2 separate regions of the Homo sapiens genome follow, and region 2 is linked to region 1. A link means that fine-mapping ties the variant in region 1 to the expression of a gene that starts in the linked region. Tissue or cell type: whole blood. Region 1 holds a variant in brackets; the other region holds the start of a gene. All regions are shown on one strand. Distances are between the middles of the regions.

Region 1 (8,104 bases):
TATCCAATGAGAAACATATTGAAGCAGGCTCAAGTCTGGAAATTCACCCCACCCCAGCCTGACCAACCCCCAAACAACCCCTTCCAAAAAAGTGAAACTTCCACAGCTGACAGGCCCTGATTCATCTTTCCAGGGAGAATAACACCTAGTAATAGTAGTCACATTATTTTGTGACAAATGATGTCATGAATATCACTGGGACCACAACAGCCATTACCACGGTTCTCTGGATATGGTTAACATTTTCTTGATTATCTCAGAGAGCTGAACTTTTAGGATGTCTGCTTGTATCTGGCTTACCACTGAATGGCTAAAGAGATACCTGAACATACCAGAGGGCCAACTCAGGACACATGGACAGTTTCTGAAATGAACCGGGTAAAAGTAAAACCGTAACAGCCATCTTTTCCCTCACTCCACTGAAGGGGACCAAAAACCTAGGTTAGGTTAGCTCATTCACAAAATGTTTAGACTTTGAAAAAGTTATACTTTAAAGTATGAAATATGTTTTTTATTTTTAAAAAGTGTAATGTTACCAAATTCCCTATATTCAACATCTTCTCAAAACTGGCCTCCATCTTGTGATGCTCCATGGCCAAGAAGACAGTGTTGATGATGATGCAGATGGTGATGGCCAGCTCAGTAAACGGGTCAGTCATCACAGTTCTCAGGACCTTCTTAACGCACAGCCACTGGGGGCAACAGTTCCACACGAGGTACTTGGATGCCAGGTTTTCTCCACAAGGGAGACAAGGCTCTTGTGATTTTTCTTGTTCTGGAGGAGAATGAGCGAGAGGTTGAGGAGTTAGCTCTGAAGCAATCCAGATGCCCTTTGCCTGAGTGCATTCCTTCCTCCCTCTTCCCCAGGGCCTCCTGATACATGATCAGTTGTGAAATGTTTTGATTTGTGTAGTCAGAAAGGTTTTTCCACCAATCTTAGTGCAGAAGAGACAATGTTCCACATACAACTAGCATGCGGTACAGTCAAGTCCATCAAATATTTACACTCTTACTGAGCATCCAGGAGCTGAGCTTTGATGTTAGATATATAGATGTGGAAATCAACATTGGCTGGCTGTGAATCCAAGAGAGAGATAGATACAGGCACAAGTTATGTCCACTCAAGACAGACCATAAGGTCAGCTGTAACAGAGGCAAAAGGGGCAACCAGGGCTCAAGGGAAGGGGCATCTATAAGCACTGAAACAGTAAAAGGGACTCTATCCTCTAGTTGAGTTCAGACCATCCCTGATTTCCCTGGCACCGCTGCAGGGACACATGCAGGGCAAACGAGATGATGCAGTAGGCTTAAAAGTGCTAGAGGACCTATTTGACCCCCCTTGCAGGGAGTAAATCCTGCTCCTGAACACCAACCCCTGGGGTGGGGTCCTGTTACCTGCTATTAATCTGGTCCATCAGATGGCTCCAGCCTTTCTACATAGGTCTTCTATTGCCCATGTGGGGTTTCTGACTCTAACTTCAATAACAACTGCCACCTCCTGGAGACTTCAAAGTCTTCTGTTCTTTGACTGACTATTGTTGTCACTTGGATCTCTTGTGACTCCCAGGCCTGGTTTGAGGCCCTGTTTATGCATTTTGTCTGAAGTCCCATCCCAAGTCTAGCCAGCTTCCACCTCTACCCAGGTGCCAGTTTAGAGTGGGCCCACAGGGAAGGTCTGCTTCTTGTGAGCCACTTTGTTTACATGCTCCAAAGAGGCAAAGGAAGTCACTCTTTGCAGGATGGTACAGTGGGTTGGTTCCAAAACAGCCTCCTTTGCAGAGGGCTTCTAGGGGATTGGGAAGAAGAAGAATGGAAGGACATCACTGAAGTAGACTTTCCCTTGGATTGGGATGTGGAACTTACCCTTCATGGTGATGGTGAGGATGCTGACAGCACTCAGTGCTCTCTGCCTTTGGAGAGGATCTCCATGCTCATCAAAGTGGTCCAGTGATAGATTCTGGGACAGTCGTTTGGTTTGCTCTAGGAGCTGTGGCTGTAAGAGAAGGCATAGGGCACCTTCTAAAGACAGGGGCTGCCTCTCCTCAAAACTTAACAAACTACTTTGTTCCAATGCTACATGTAATGAAAGTGCTCAACATTTTCTATAGGTCTACTCACCTCGTCTTTACAGCATGCCAAATATTCAGTTTTCTTATTTCATGTTTAACAAATAAGAGAAATCTGGTTTGATCATTCATATTTCCTATGCATGCACATTTCTAGAGTCCTACCTACAGACATTTTACTTTCTCTGTGTTTCATTCACTGCCAACAAAGAGCAAACAAAATTTTACAAAAACTAGTAAGCAATGGTTCCGGGTATGAAAGCAATACAAAATCCAATTTGTAAACAATGTTTAAAGGTAAGAAGTGGAGTATAAATTTAGAAAGGTGGACTGGAGCCAGATTGTGAAGTGCTAGCTGCAGTTGTGAAGTGAACAACCGCCTATACGGTTTTTAAAACGGTTGGTAACTAAAAAGAACAGTCCCACTAAATATCACAAAATCTAGATCCTAAACCTCAAACACACTCTCAAGCTGGGCCCAAGGGCTAGCTCACTCTCTCACATCTACCTACAATTCTAAAGTTACTGGAATTAAACAGTGCAAACCTCCAGCTATCCAGAAAATTTGGGTTTTCCTAGTGGCTTATTTTCCAAGGGTTCCGACTCACCAGAGCCCCAGAGGGAACTATCTTTTTTGTGATAAGCCAATCTAGATAGTCTTTCTATGAGATCTCTCCCTATTACTACAGCAGAGAACTGATCATAGCAGTGGATGGGATCCTTCTACCTACTTCTGCAAAGGCCTCTCAATTCCCTTTCCCCACCACATTATCAGGCATACATATCCACCTTCTACCTACTACATCTCCCTCTATCTCAGGAAAGTGGCTCTTGCCATCTTTACCTGTATCTTTAGCATCTTCCTCTCTTCTGACTTTTCTCTGGACAATTAAAATATGTCTGAACATCCCCCTCCTTAATGATAAGAATAACTTTTTCTGCTGCCCATCCCTCCCCCACCACCAGCTTCATTTCTGCACATCACGCTGCCTAATCAACATCCCTGCTTGGAGGTCCCATAAGCATCTGGAAATTGGCACATTCAAAACTGAATGAGCCATCTTTCCACTCCCAAAATGTGTACCTTTCCTGTCTCCATAAATTACCCTCCATCAAGTTAGCTAATCATGTCGGAAACCAGGTCTTATCCCCACACTGTCCATCAAGTCAACTGCTAAATTTTATCTTCTCCAGATCACGGTCGTCTGTTAATTGCTCTTCATCCTCACTTCCCTAACCCTGGTTTAAGCCACAGGCACCTCTTACTTGGTTACTGCAACAGCCTCTTAACTGGTCGCCTCCAGTTTTGCCCTCCTCCAATCCCCTGTCTTCAATGCATCCAGAATTTCATAAATCCAGTCATATCCCTCTCTTATATAAACCTTTCAATGCTCTTTACCCTTAGCCCTCATTGAAAAGGGTAAACTCTCTAGCTTTGTTTTCGAGGTCTTTTGTGATCCCCCAACTGATCACTATAGCCTTGTGCCACCCACCCTCCCCCAGCCTCATCACACATGTGCATGCATGAGCGTGCGTGCACGCGCATACACACACACTGGCAAGTTTTCTAATGGGTCATGTTCTCCTGCTTGCCTTCGCTTCTAGGCTTTTGCACATTCTATTCTCTCTGCAGGTAATGCTCTCTTTTTCCTTTTACTGGTGAATTCATCCTTTCAGCTGACACACTGCATCTTCTGGGGACCCTTTTCCATTGCTTTTCCCCCAGGCCCCATGAATTCTGGATGCTGTTGGTTTTCCCACCCATATGTCCTTACTTGAGGACTTTCTCTAATGATTCAAATCCTGTCTTCCTTAGTGCACAGCAAGTAGGAAATTAGAGGGAAATTATTGTCTTCTGTCTTCAGCAATCTTTAATCTATGATGGTCCAAAGTTGGTATATATATACCAACATATATGTGTGTGTGTGTGTGTGTGTGTGTGTGTGTGTATATAT[C/A]TATATATACACACACACACACACACACACACACACACACTTTGATGCCCTTACTTTGGAAGGATTAAACTCCAACTACCTGGCTTCAGTGGTAACTGGCTTGATAATGCATCTTCATTGGTTACCTTCCATTCCATATAGCACTTCTTCCCTCCTTTCCCAGTGCTTCCTGGGATCACTTCCCAAATAATCTACTTGCATTGTAATGTCTTTGGGTTTGCTTCAGAGGGAGCCCACACTGACACATAGTTCCTCCTCTGTTCTCCCACAGCAATCAGCACATCAGTCATCACACTGACTCATAACTGCCTTCTTATCAGTATATCTTCATCATTAGCCGTACACTCTGTGGAGTATAAAACATGTATCCCTAGCACCTATCCCAGTGCCAAGAAGATAGTAAACACTGTAAACACTCTAAATTGATGTTTACAAATAAATGGATAATTGAAAAGACACATGGATGCATGAAAGTATGTGCAAATGGATGAATGAATAAATGAGTAACTGAATAAATGAATTATTTCAATTTGATTGGCAATTGGACCTGTCCCCCTGGACAGCAATATGGTATCATTAATTCCCTGGAAAAGACTTACCTTTTTTTGGCAATCTTCATCAGAATCTGACCCAGGAGGCTGGTCTTTCCCAGACTCTCTCAAAAAGAAGGACTTCCTTTTCTTATTACCAAAGAGCTTTCTCTTTTTTGGGGTAAAATATGATGTTTCAAGGGAAGTAAGTGAACTTCTGTCAATTCCCATGGCAACCAGAGCCTTCAAATTGAACAAAAGCAATTAAAGAACAGATTACACCTCCTCATGAAACATTGCAAATGACCCCGACCTGAGAGTGGTGAAAATCTCTCTTCTGGTAGCTCTGTATCATTTAAATTGCTCATCATCTACCTGGACTACGCTAGCTCTGTTATTTATCTGGGGAAACATGTCCTGTTTTTGCACAGAAATTGCAGCCACCAAAAGCAGCATTGACTCTTTCATATCTCTGTGTCACTGCCCCTTAGCACAGTGTCCAGTATGCGCTAGGCACTCAATAAATACTTATGCCTGATAGTGCAGATGTTAAGCACTTACGATGGGCATCCTTCTGACAAATCTTATAGAGGATCAGTGCGAGTATAAAACATGGTCCCTGTCCTGAAAATCTGAGACTTGAGCTGGAAGAATGTAAAGATTCCAAGGAAACTATTAGAATGGCCTATAAATAAGACAAGGATTGCAGACAGGGAGAGGTGAACATTATTCTAGAGTCCACCTCAAGCAAAGGCGCCGAACACAAACATCTCCAGATTTCCAAAAGAAAGCCTGGAGCACAGCCTGGATTTACATATACTTATGTTGTATCGTCTAGTCAGTAATTTAGGGCATGTCTTAGAAGGCTTAGACTTCAGAAGGTCAAAAAGCATCAAGACCAAGCGTTCCCCGTTTTGAAGGGCCTGGTGCCTGGACAATTTTGTGAAAGATAGCAGCACAGCCATTCTTCGAGGGACTTATATTCTCAGAAAAGCACCAGTAGAGAAAGCACTGAGACCAGGCCAAGGGTGGCAGCCTTGAGTCTCAGGTCACATTGCCTCTGGGGACCCCTTCCCCTCCCCAGAGCAGATCCCACTGTCTGACCCCATGTCCCTACCTCCTTTTCCTCCTTTAACAGCTGCTGGGCTTCCTGAAACATCTTTTCCTTGGCCTCTATCTCTGCAGCTACATTCTTGTTCTGCTCCTCATATGCCATGGTAACAACAGCCAGGGTTAAGTTAATCAGGTAGAAGGAGCCCAGGAAAATGACCACAATGAAGAAGAAGACTGAGTAGAGCCCAGTAGTACGCAGGGTCTGCAAAGGACAGAGCATGTTCTTGAATATCAAACCTTCTTCCACAGGAAAGTGACCATCACCTCAAGCAAAAACCACACAGTAGCAGACAACTGGTCTTCCCCCAGCACTGGTGGGCTCAGTTGACCACAGACCATATAGCTTCCCTAATACTCCAGGGATTCCTGATGCCCTATCTCTCAGTGGGGAGATACTATCCACACCTTCACATGGAAGTTTCAGTGACTTTACTATCTATAACTCTCTCAAGAGTATCTGCATTTTTAAAATAAAAGTGGCAAGAGAGATAGGGCAGTAGGGAATCTGGAGGGGGCTAACATTTCTAGGAAGAGGAGGGGTTCTTTGGAGTCTTCTTCCAAATATTGCATTTAAAATTTTCTTGAAGTTTCTTTTTTTTTTTTTTTTTGAGACGGAGTTTCACTCTATCACCCAGGCTGGAGTGCAGTGGTGTGATCTCGGCTCATTGCAACCTCCGCCTCCTAGGTTCAAGTGATTCTCCTGCCTCATCTTTCCAAGTAGTGGGGATTACAGGCACCTGTCACCATGCCCTGCTAATTTTTGTATTTTTAGTAGAGTTGGGGTTTCACCATGTTGGCCAGGCTGGTCTCAAACTCCTGACCTCAAGCCTCAGCCTTCCAAAGTGCTAGGATTACAGGCGGGAGTCAGCGTGCCTGGCCAATTTTCTTGAAGTTTCTAACAGAATTAGTAAGGCAGAATTTAACAGTACAACTGTTAAAGATGAGACAGATGATAAAAGTGGGGGATGAATGGTAGTTATAAATAAATGGTAAATAAATAGGTAAGTGATAGAGGGGGAAGGAAAAGGATGGAGGGAGGGAGAGAGGAAAAAGAGAGACTATAAATAGATAACCTGTTGATAAAGCTTCTCCCAGGAATCTTGGGTCATCAGCCGGAACATGGCAAGAAAAGACCAGCCAAAGTTGTCAAAATTCGTATAATTATAGTCAGGATTAATTTTGGTGTGCTTACATTCATATTGTATGGAACAGGCACTAGATATTGGAAACAAACAGAGAAATAATTATGTACGCCACAGCCAAGCTTCTTTTTCCTTCCAACGACTCTGGTTTTTCCAAGGGCTGTGGGATCACACCAGGAGCCCTAGAGGAAGGGAGTATTTGTAAAGTGGCCCACTGCACTGTCTGACAAGACTCTTTTGCTAATGAACTGATTAATAAATTCATATAAGATAGTTTTTCATTGAAAAATTGAGTACAGTGACACGTGAACAATGAATAGTATAAAAGCACATACAATGAATATTAAGTCTTCCTCTCTTCCCAGTTTCCTGATCCCACTTCTTAGAGGCAATAGTTAACAGTTACTTTTGTAAATTTCCAGAAGTTTGCTATGACTATACAGCACATCTATATCTACACACAACTTTTATAATACACAAAAATGGGAACATGCTTTGCACTCTCCTGCACCTTGCTTTTTTTAATGGAACAATATAGTTCAGAGCTCTTTTCATATCACCATACAGGGAGATATCTTATTTCTTTTCATGTCTATAGTTCTATGATTTATTTAACTGCTCTGCTAATGATGAATATTTAGGTTTCAGTAATTGACAGTCCTTCACTCTTACAAACATTTGGGCAATGAATATCTTTGAACATAGGTCTTTTCACATATTACCAAAACACAAATTATTGAGTGTATCTATAAGATGTACTAAGGGTATGTATTTCTTAGTTTTTTAATAAATAGTATTTTAATCAAAGTAATACATGCACATGGCTTAAAAATTACATGCACCAAAAAGCTTATAATGAAATCAATTGTATAATTCTTTAACTGTCATTTATACACCCCAAATTCAACAACTGTTAACTCTTCTACCTCCGTATATCTAAATAGTGCTTACACTGATATTTGATTTATCAATTGTAGTTCGTGTTGATTAACTTCTTGCTATGGTAGACATTTTTTCTTGGCTTTTTCATGTTGCTTTTTTATGTTTTACTCCCTCATTCTTCTGGAGCACTTGTCAATTAGCTTCTTAAGAAGATTGTGTAATCTTTGCATATATGAATATATATTTATTCCATTTTCACAATCAATTGGTAGTTTGGCCAGAAATAGAATTCTGAGTTGGAAGTTTTTCCTTAGCAATATGAAAGCACTGCTCAGTTATTATCCTGTGTTGCTATTAAGAATTCTTATGCCAGTTTGATTTTTGTTCCTTTTTGGGTGACCTTCTTTTGCCCATTA
Region 2 (8,102 bases), 200 kb after region 1:
AGGTCTTTGGCTGCGGGCATTTGATAACCTGTTGGCGTAGACACCAGCCAGACCCAGCCCAGAGGGCACAGGACCTAGGCTCTTGCTGCCTCCTCATGGGAAAGGCCCTGTGGCTCCTGCTACATACCAGCCCCTCCAGGTTTGGATTCCCCAACCTGAAGGAGAGCTCATGAAGACTAGGCTGAGAACAAACCGCTGAGATCAAGGCCAGTTTGCCCCTGGAATTAGGATTCCCTTCTGGCAGCATCACCAACTGAGCCCCTCCTTATCACCTCCAGAAGCTGCCATGGCTTCCAAAGGGAGTGAGTGCGGCCCAGAAATCAGATCTGGGCCTAGTTGGCCTGGCCCAGTAGGCAAGCTGCTCCCAGGCCCCGCTGCAGGGGAGCTCTGGGCCCTGCCCTCTAACCCTTCAGGTGAGGGGATCTTTCGAAAACCACAGGACAGGACAGTTATTCAGGAATAGCTTGGGGACAATGCCCCTCCCTAATCAGGGCCACCTCCAAATCACTCCACGTCAGGTGCCTGCCTACTTCCCTCCCCACTCCCCAGTATTGCATGTCAGCTGCTCTCCATCATGAATGAGGTCCAGAGGGTCAGGCCCCAGGCCTGGCCTCCTTGACCCACCCAATACCTCCACCACCCTCTCCTGTGGCTTTGTCCTCTGCTTGGCTACACTCCACTTCTCTCACCTGGGGCCTCATCACTACTCACTATGGCTCCGCAGCTGAAATAATCTATGCTGCTGCCCACTGTACGGCTCCCCCTGCAGAAACCACTGCCTGCCATCCAGCTCCCTCAGGGGCTCCCATCACAGCCTGCCCCAAGGCCCTATAGTGCTGCTTTTCCTCATGCTCCCACCCTATTTTTCCCAATCAGGGAACCTAATGGAACTCACAGTGATCACAACTTACACTTACTAAGGGCTGGTTGGCTGAGTGCCAGGGCATGGCACCACCTCACCTGCTTTATGTGTCATTTAACCTTTTTAATAACCTCAAATGACAAATGAGACCAAGTACTCAATAATTCAGTAATTTGACCCCAGGAAATCCAACCCAGAGCCCTCCCCCTAACCACTGCCCTCTCCTAACAGCTGTTTCCTGGTGAATCTGCCACTACTCTAAGCTCGCTGAGGGCAGCGACTTCTCCAAAGTATTGGGCACGCAGCGAGGTGCCAATATTTCTAGAATGCAGCACAGCTGTTCTTCAGTGTTGTTAAAGGTAAGTAGGTCATGTCACTCCTCCATTTAAAACCTCCTGATGGTTTTACATCTCAGAATAAAATCTTAAATCTTCAGGACAACAGGCAAGGTCCTACACGGTCTGCTCTGGTCTCCTCCTCACACTGGCCACACCATCCAAGCACACCAGCCTCACCTGGCATTTCCTCAAACACACAAGCACAACCTACCTCGGGGCCTCTGCACAAGCTGGTCCTTCTGCCTGGAATACTACTATTCCCCTAAATATCTGTATTGTCCACTCTTTACTTCCTTCAGAAGCATCTGTTCGAATGTGACTTGAGAAGAGGCCCTTCCTGACCACTCTATCAAAAATAGCACCCACTCACCATTCTGTATCCCCTTAACCTGCTTTATTTTTATCACTGGTAATTACCACCTACCATGTATTTTTTCATTTCCCTTCTTTCCCTACCATCATCCAAATGTCAGCTCCAGAACAGGGACCATGTTTGTTCTGTTCACTGCTTTATCTCTAGAGCCTTAGAATTCTGCCTGCCAGAGTAGGAGCTCAAAACTTTGTTTTTGTGACTGACAACCTCTGATCCCTGGTCCCTCTCCAATTTGTCCCTCTCCATCAGGCAGGCCCCTCCCGTCTTCGAAGCTCCCATCATCGCCCCACCCCTCCTCTTGCCAATATCCTGAGTTCCTTTGCCTTTAATCAAACCTGTTGGAAGACGCTCCTGGCTGGATGCATTCCACTGTCCACGCTTGCTGTTTGGTGTCTCACCATAAGAAAGCCCATTCCCAAGCACAAATCCTGTCAACTCTGGGTTCTCCAAGCCAGCCTGGTTTTCACGTTAAGAAACTTTTAGCCCTCTCATGTGGTTAGCTGGCAACAGACCCTACCTTCAAAACACACAAACCGACAAGCTTGCCTGTCTCCACTCATCTCTGCATCCAGCTGCCTTTCACTAGGGAAAGGGGGGGTGCAGGGACGCCTCTTCCCCGCAGCGCTCCGGGGTCAGAGACCCCCAGCCCCTCTCACCTACATTATAGCCCTTCCCTCACCGCAGGCACAAATCTCCATCCGGCTGCGGGACCCTCTCCTCACCCTCACAGCACACTCCGTTCTAGGAACCCCACTCCGTCTCCACTCTCCGGAAGCCTGCTCGCCCAGACCTCCATGTAGCGGCATCTAAAGGCTGGGACCCTCCCCAGCTGCAAACGCTCTCCTCGAGGATTCTGCAGCACTCTCCCGGCCCTCCCGCTCCCCACTATCCCGTGGCTGGTTTGCACCGGTCCTCTACCCTCGGAAGCCCTTACGACCCTACGACTGGCAGGACGCGCGCCGACGGGCTCCCCCGCAGCTGCGTCCACTCGGTTAACCCCGGCCCCCGGGACTGTCCTCGGCGTGGCTGACTCTCTTCCCAGGCCCAGCACGGAGAGCGGCCCGCGGCAGGCGAGCGTAAATGTGTGCTAAGTGCACGAGTGCGTCCCGACTGGTAGTGGTGCATTCTTCACCCGGGAGGAGCGCCATTCCCGGCGGCCGGACCAGGAAAACGCTCCGCTTCCGGCACTGCTGGCACTTGGGGCGGGCGCTGGGCCCGACCGCGGCCGCGGACTAGCCAGGGTCCGGGAGTCCCGCGAGGCCGCCTCTCCCAGGAGGCTCCCACCGGGCAGGGGGCACCTCCCGCCACCCAGGCGGAAACACTCGGGCCGGGACCCCGCCGCAGTCGCCAGCCAGCCGGCGACCGGACGCCCGGGCGCGGGGTTGCGGGCGCCTCGCCAAGGTCACCGGCGCCGCGGCGGCAACTCACCCCGTGGAGGTGGAAGCCCTCGGCGCCGCCTGCGGGCTGCTCAGCGCTGACGCCCAGGCCCATGGCAGCGGCTCCGCTCGGCACCCAGGTCCAGTCCCGCTGCGCCTACCCGGACCGACCCGACGCCAGTAGCACCGACTCGCTCTCTCGGCGCTCGATTCCTGCGCCTTGTGACGTGAGGCGTTTTGTTCCTCCCACTCCAGACACTGGACGCTCCTAGCAACCGGCTAGCAGCTCGGTTTCCAAGGACTGTAACGCCTTCAACCGCCCGCCGCGATAGAGTGCCCACGACCCTGCCTCGGGAATCCCGCTCTGCACCGCCCCACCAGACCCGGACTCGGAGCCGCGAGCGGCCCGAGATGAGCAGCAATGACTCCTCCCTTATGGTGCGTGGCCCGGGCGCTGTCCGAGGGCTCCCTCGTGACTCCCCGCCCCTGACCCAGAGACCGTCTGCCCTGCTACTCTCCTGCCACCCTTCGCTGTCCTCAGTTATATCAGGCGGTCCTGCCTTTTCTTGCCCCACTCCCCCTGGCAAGGGCGTCTTCTCCGGTGGCTTCTGCGCACCCTGAGCCCCAAATTAGCATCCCCGTTTCTTGAGCTACCCCAAACCAGCTCATCCAATCACTATCATTATCCCTTCTTGTCATCATCCCTTCTTCCACCCAGCTCACTCTCGCCTGCGCCTCCCACCCCAGTTGATGGCTTCACCATTTAATCTCCTAGCCTTAACTCATACCTCTTCCCTATACTCATCTTCTAATCCTGTCTACAAGAAATGCCAGCTCCTTGATGTCTCCTGGGTTTTCTTTTTATCTTTTTATCTTCTAGCCCAGAACCAGCACCATCTCTCCCCCCTGAGAGCCTGCAACAGCCTCCCTCCCATCTGGTTTCTCTGCTGTGGCTCTTTTCAGCATCAGTAGTCCCTGCTGCCACCACGGCACACACCCCCCACATGCAAAAGCAGCCAGAGTGGTTGTTGCAAAAATGTACATCTGAAAACATCCCTCGCCTTAAAACCATTCTGCTTTCTGTTACCCTTAGGATGGTGTCTGGGCTCTTTCATATGGCCCATGAGGATGTTTACAGTCCAACCACATCTGCTCCCAACCTAGCACCCACAAACCTTAGAGGAAGTGAAACTTAACTTTAAAATCTCAGCCCCTTTGTCAAGCTGTAGTTTCCATGGGCTTAAGCTTCCTTAGCTGTGAAAGATACTGAGAGGACCATGCACAGGATAGTGGATATGAAGCCCACAATAACTTGTAACTACAATTCGTATAATTTTTCTTATTATTTGTCCTCATTTTTCCCCCCTTATTCCCTTCCTAAGACAAAGCCTTGGTTGAATTCCCCATCATAGTTGAACCAGAATCTGTTGGTAATCCCCCAAACAAACACCTCCAAACTCTTTCCTGGGAAAACTGCATGGAGCTGCTCCCAGGGCTGTTAGAGGACAGGATGAGGCCTGAATGTTTCCTCTTTCTCTTCCCTTTGCAGAACTGAGGAGGAGCAGGGGATAGGGAAGGGAGCAGGTCTCATCCCATCTGGGACAGAACAGAGACAGAGAAGGGACTGGGCTATTGCAGTTATGTCTTCCTTCATACAGGCTGGGATCATTTACTATAGCCAGGAAAAGTACTTCCACCATGTGCAGCAGGCTGCAGCTGTGGGCCTGGAAAAATTCAGCAATGACCCTGTGTTGAAGTTCTTTAAAGCCTATGGAGTCCTCAAAGAAGGTAAGGACTTGGCAGTGTTGGTCTTGTGACCCCAGGCACTAGCTGGGCCCTAACACTCTGGCTCCACCTGGATGCCTTCTTGTATCCTAGTTATGGTCCCATAAAAACAGTTTCACACTCAGCGGCTGGATTCCCACGGGAATCCACAGAGGCCTACGTAATCCATATCTAGTTGACTTTTGAGACCTCAGAGCGCTGACTATCCCTGCTCTGCACCTCGGGTTCCCTCTCTGTAAAATGAGTGGTTGGAGAGATAGCTGCATGATTCTTGAAGTAATTCCAGGCCTGGAAGCTGAGAACTGGTAATGCAGGCAAAGGAGGGGGAAGAGGTAGGTGTGAGGACAGGTGGGTATGGTACAGGTACAGGGAGAGGAGTGAGACCCATGCAGGTGCAGATGGGCTGACATTCAGAAGGTGGTCCTAGGCTGAGGACTGGCAGAATAGCCCATGGCCAAATGTCTGAGGACATGGAGGGATAAATGTAATCAGTGGCTCTTGAGCAGTAGCTGAGAATGCCCTGCCTGAGGTCCTTCTTCAGAACTGACGCAGCTAATAATTGCAGCCTCACACATATCCCCACAAGTACTCACAGGGTGAACCTTTCAAGTCCAAGATTTCCAGCCCCTAACAGCCTGGACCATGTTACCAGCAACTCTTTCAAAGAGCCCCAATCTTCAGGGAACTTGGGTCACTGGGGACCTTTCAGACCAGTTAGTCCAGCAGGTAGTAGTGCTGAGCTGTTGGGTCAGCTACAGAGTCTCATGTCCTCTAGTCCTGGAGCTTGAGAGTATAACTATGTGGACTGTCTTTGCAGAGCACATCCAGGATGCCATCAGTGACCTGGAAAGCATCAGGCATCACCCAGACGTGTCCCTGTGCTCCACCATGGCCCTCATTTATGCTCACAAAAGATGTGAAATCATTGGTGAGTGCCACCATGCTCAACCAGGCCTGACCCACCAGGGGAAGGAAAGCCCTGCCCCAGAGATAACACAGCCCCTCAAGGGCTGCCAAAGGAGGTATGTGCCCTGGTGGCTGTGCAGATGCTGTTAACCAGTGAGAAGTGGCTGCTGCTCCTCTCCCCCTGGAGGCCTGGGAGAAGACTCCATGCCTGGGCCCAACTGAGTGGAAGCAGGCAGAGCCCATGACAGTGGGAGGGGCCCATGCTCCAGATCCCAAGAGTTGGGGAAACACCCTTCTTCTTTGCCAAGATCTTGTCAGAAAAACCAAGCCAATATATATAATTCTACCCCTAATCTCCACATTTCTAGAGTCAGGGAGAGGGTCCAAGAGAGACTACAGACTACTATTTCCCTACTCACAATAAGTTGTGGGCCTGAGGCTAAGGATTTTGGTTTGGCCTGCCTGCTCAGCACACTGCTGGGCACAGAGAAGAGAAGGTAATCTCAGACAGCACACGTGAGTCCACACCAGGGCAGCCCCTGCAGCATCTCAAGGGCAGGTACTGCTGGTTTCCAGGCCTTGGGCTGCATGCGGTGTGCTGCATATGTTGAAGGAGATCCACAGTGTCTGGGGGAGACCCCGAGGTAGTTCCCTGGGCCCTCGGTGGCCCATGCAGAACCAGGCAGACTTCCACATCCTAACTCTCCCTCTTCCTTCGCTCTTGGATTTACAGACCGAGAAGCAATTCAGGAGCTTGAGTACAGCCTGAAGGAAATACGCAAGACAGTCAGTGGGACTGCACTGTACTATGCTGGCCTTTTCCTCTGGCTCATAGGCCGCCATGACAAGGCCAAAGAGTACATTGACCGCATGCTGAAGATTTCTAGAGGCTTCAGAGAGGTACTTACCACACCATGGGGACAACAGGCGAAGAAAGCAGCATCCAAACACATAATAGCAGGGTGGCCCTCATTCCCACAAAGGGCCCTGAAACTGGGGGAGAGCCACACCCAGGCACTGGCAAAACACCGGGTCTCACAGTTGCCCCACGCGTGTTGTCTCTGGGCTTAGCAGAGGTTACACATTGGCATTTGTACACAGAGTCTGATCTTTAGATAGATTTTCTATGGCTTGCACCATATTCTTAAGAAATTTTTTTTTGAGACCTCACTGCAGCCTCAACCTCCTAGGCACAAGCAATCCTTCCACCTCAGCCCCCCAAGTAGCTGGGACCATAGGTGTGTGCCAGCATGCCCAGCTAGTTTTTACATTTTTTGTAGAGACTGGGTCTTGCCATGTTGCCCAGGCTGGTCCAGACTTACTGGTTCTTTTGAAGACCCAGATGAGCTGGCCACACTGGGCCATTCCCTCCCTGTAATGCTCTGCTGGAACTGAATGGTGGCTCATGCAGTGCAGCCCATATACTGTATATCTGCACTAATATGGAATTTGAAGCCTCAGTCTAGGCCATGCCTTCTCAGCAGGGCTGATACCAATTTTCAAGGGTGTAGACATGGTCCCTGGGGGAGAGGGTGAAAAAAATCTTACTCTTTATGTATAAAACACAGATATATATACAGTACACAATACACAGATACGGTATATCTGAGGCACTAACATTTCTTGGAAGGGGAGGGATTGATTAGAAAACAGTATCTAAAGAGACTCCTTAGGATAGATAATAGAAAAAGAGAAATAGAACTATAATAGAGAAATACTGATCTAGGCCATCAAGAGGGGTGCTTTAGGGCAGGGCTCTTCCAAGTCTGCTTCCCAGGCCTGGCCCTCCCCATCTGCCTGGAGAGGCTGGGTGAAGGCTAACATGGAACCAGCGAGGTCCACGAGCTCAGAACGGCTCCTGCTCACCCACTCAGAGGGCATTCCTTGGCTTCCTATGCAGGGCCAGGCCTCGTGCTGGCCTAAGGAGTGGAGACATCAAGAGTGGCCTTGCGTAGGCCCCCATGTTGGCTCCTGACCCCAGTGTAAACAGGCAATGACAGGATAGGTGAGTGTGCCTCAGTAAGGGTCATGGAGAGCTGTAGGGGTACAGGGAGGGAGGCCTCCTAAGCAGGGGCCTCTGAGGCTGAGTTGTAAGTAGTGGTAATGGACATTAGGTGAAGGGGTTTGGTTGGGAGTGGGAGGGGCGCTGTCCAGGGCATTTCCAGACAAAGCAACAATGGGAGTCCTGGCCATGAGAGAGAGCTGGCTGCCCTGGGATCTGCACGGGACTGTGCCTGGCAGGGCCTCAGGGTTTTGGGTGGCAAAGTGTGGATCATGTGCAGGCTGAGTTGATTCTGTGCAGGACCAAGGACTTCATCTTTCATCTTGTTCTCATCCCAGGCCTATGTGCTCAGAGGCTGGGTGGACCTGACCTCAGACAAGCCCCACACTGCGAAGAAAGCCATTGAGTACCTGGAACAAGGAATTCAGGACACCAAAGATGTGCTGGGGCTGATGGGAAA

The links. PIP is the estimated chance that this variant, and not a neighbour inherited with it, causes the effect.
Region 2: TTC21A starts here. The variant in region 1 is fine-mapped to the expression of TTC21A in whole blood (INTERVAL, PIP 0.93).

The regions. Positions count from the first base shown.
Region 1 is chr3:38,903,329-38,911,432 of GRCh38, forward strand. It overlaps SCN11A (sodium voltage-gated channel alpha subunit 11), which reads right to left. Exons shown (of 30, transcript NM_001349253.2): 12 at 6,738-6,879; 13 at 5,669-5,866; 14 at 4,621-4,794; 15 at 1,864-1,993; 16 at 537-775. Among named protein-coding and RNA genes, the nearest start is that of SCN10A, 91 kb to the left of the region's middle. The variant C/A (reference allele first, on the strand shown) is at 4,022.
Region 2 is chr3:39,104,478-39,112,579 of GRCh38, forward strand. It overlaps TTC21A (tetratricopeptide repeat domain 21A), which reads left to right and starts at 3,203. Exons shown (of 29, transcript NM_001366900.1): 1 at 3,203-3,387; 2 at 4,608-4,737; 3 at 5,552-5,662; 4 at 6,374-6,540; 5 at 7,981-8,102. The coding sequence starts at 3,361. GORASP1 (golgi reassembly stacking protein 1) reads right to left here and starts at 3,150. Exons shown (of 9, transcript NM_031899.4): 1 at 3,002-3,150. The coding sequence starts at 3,064. RefSeq lists a silencer at 2,780-3,099.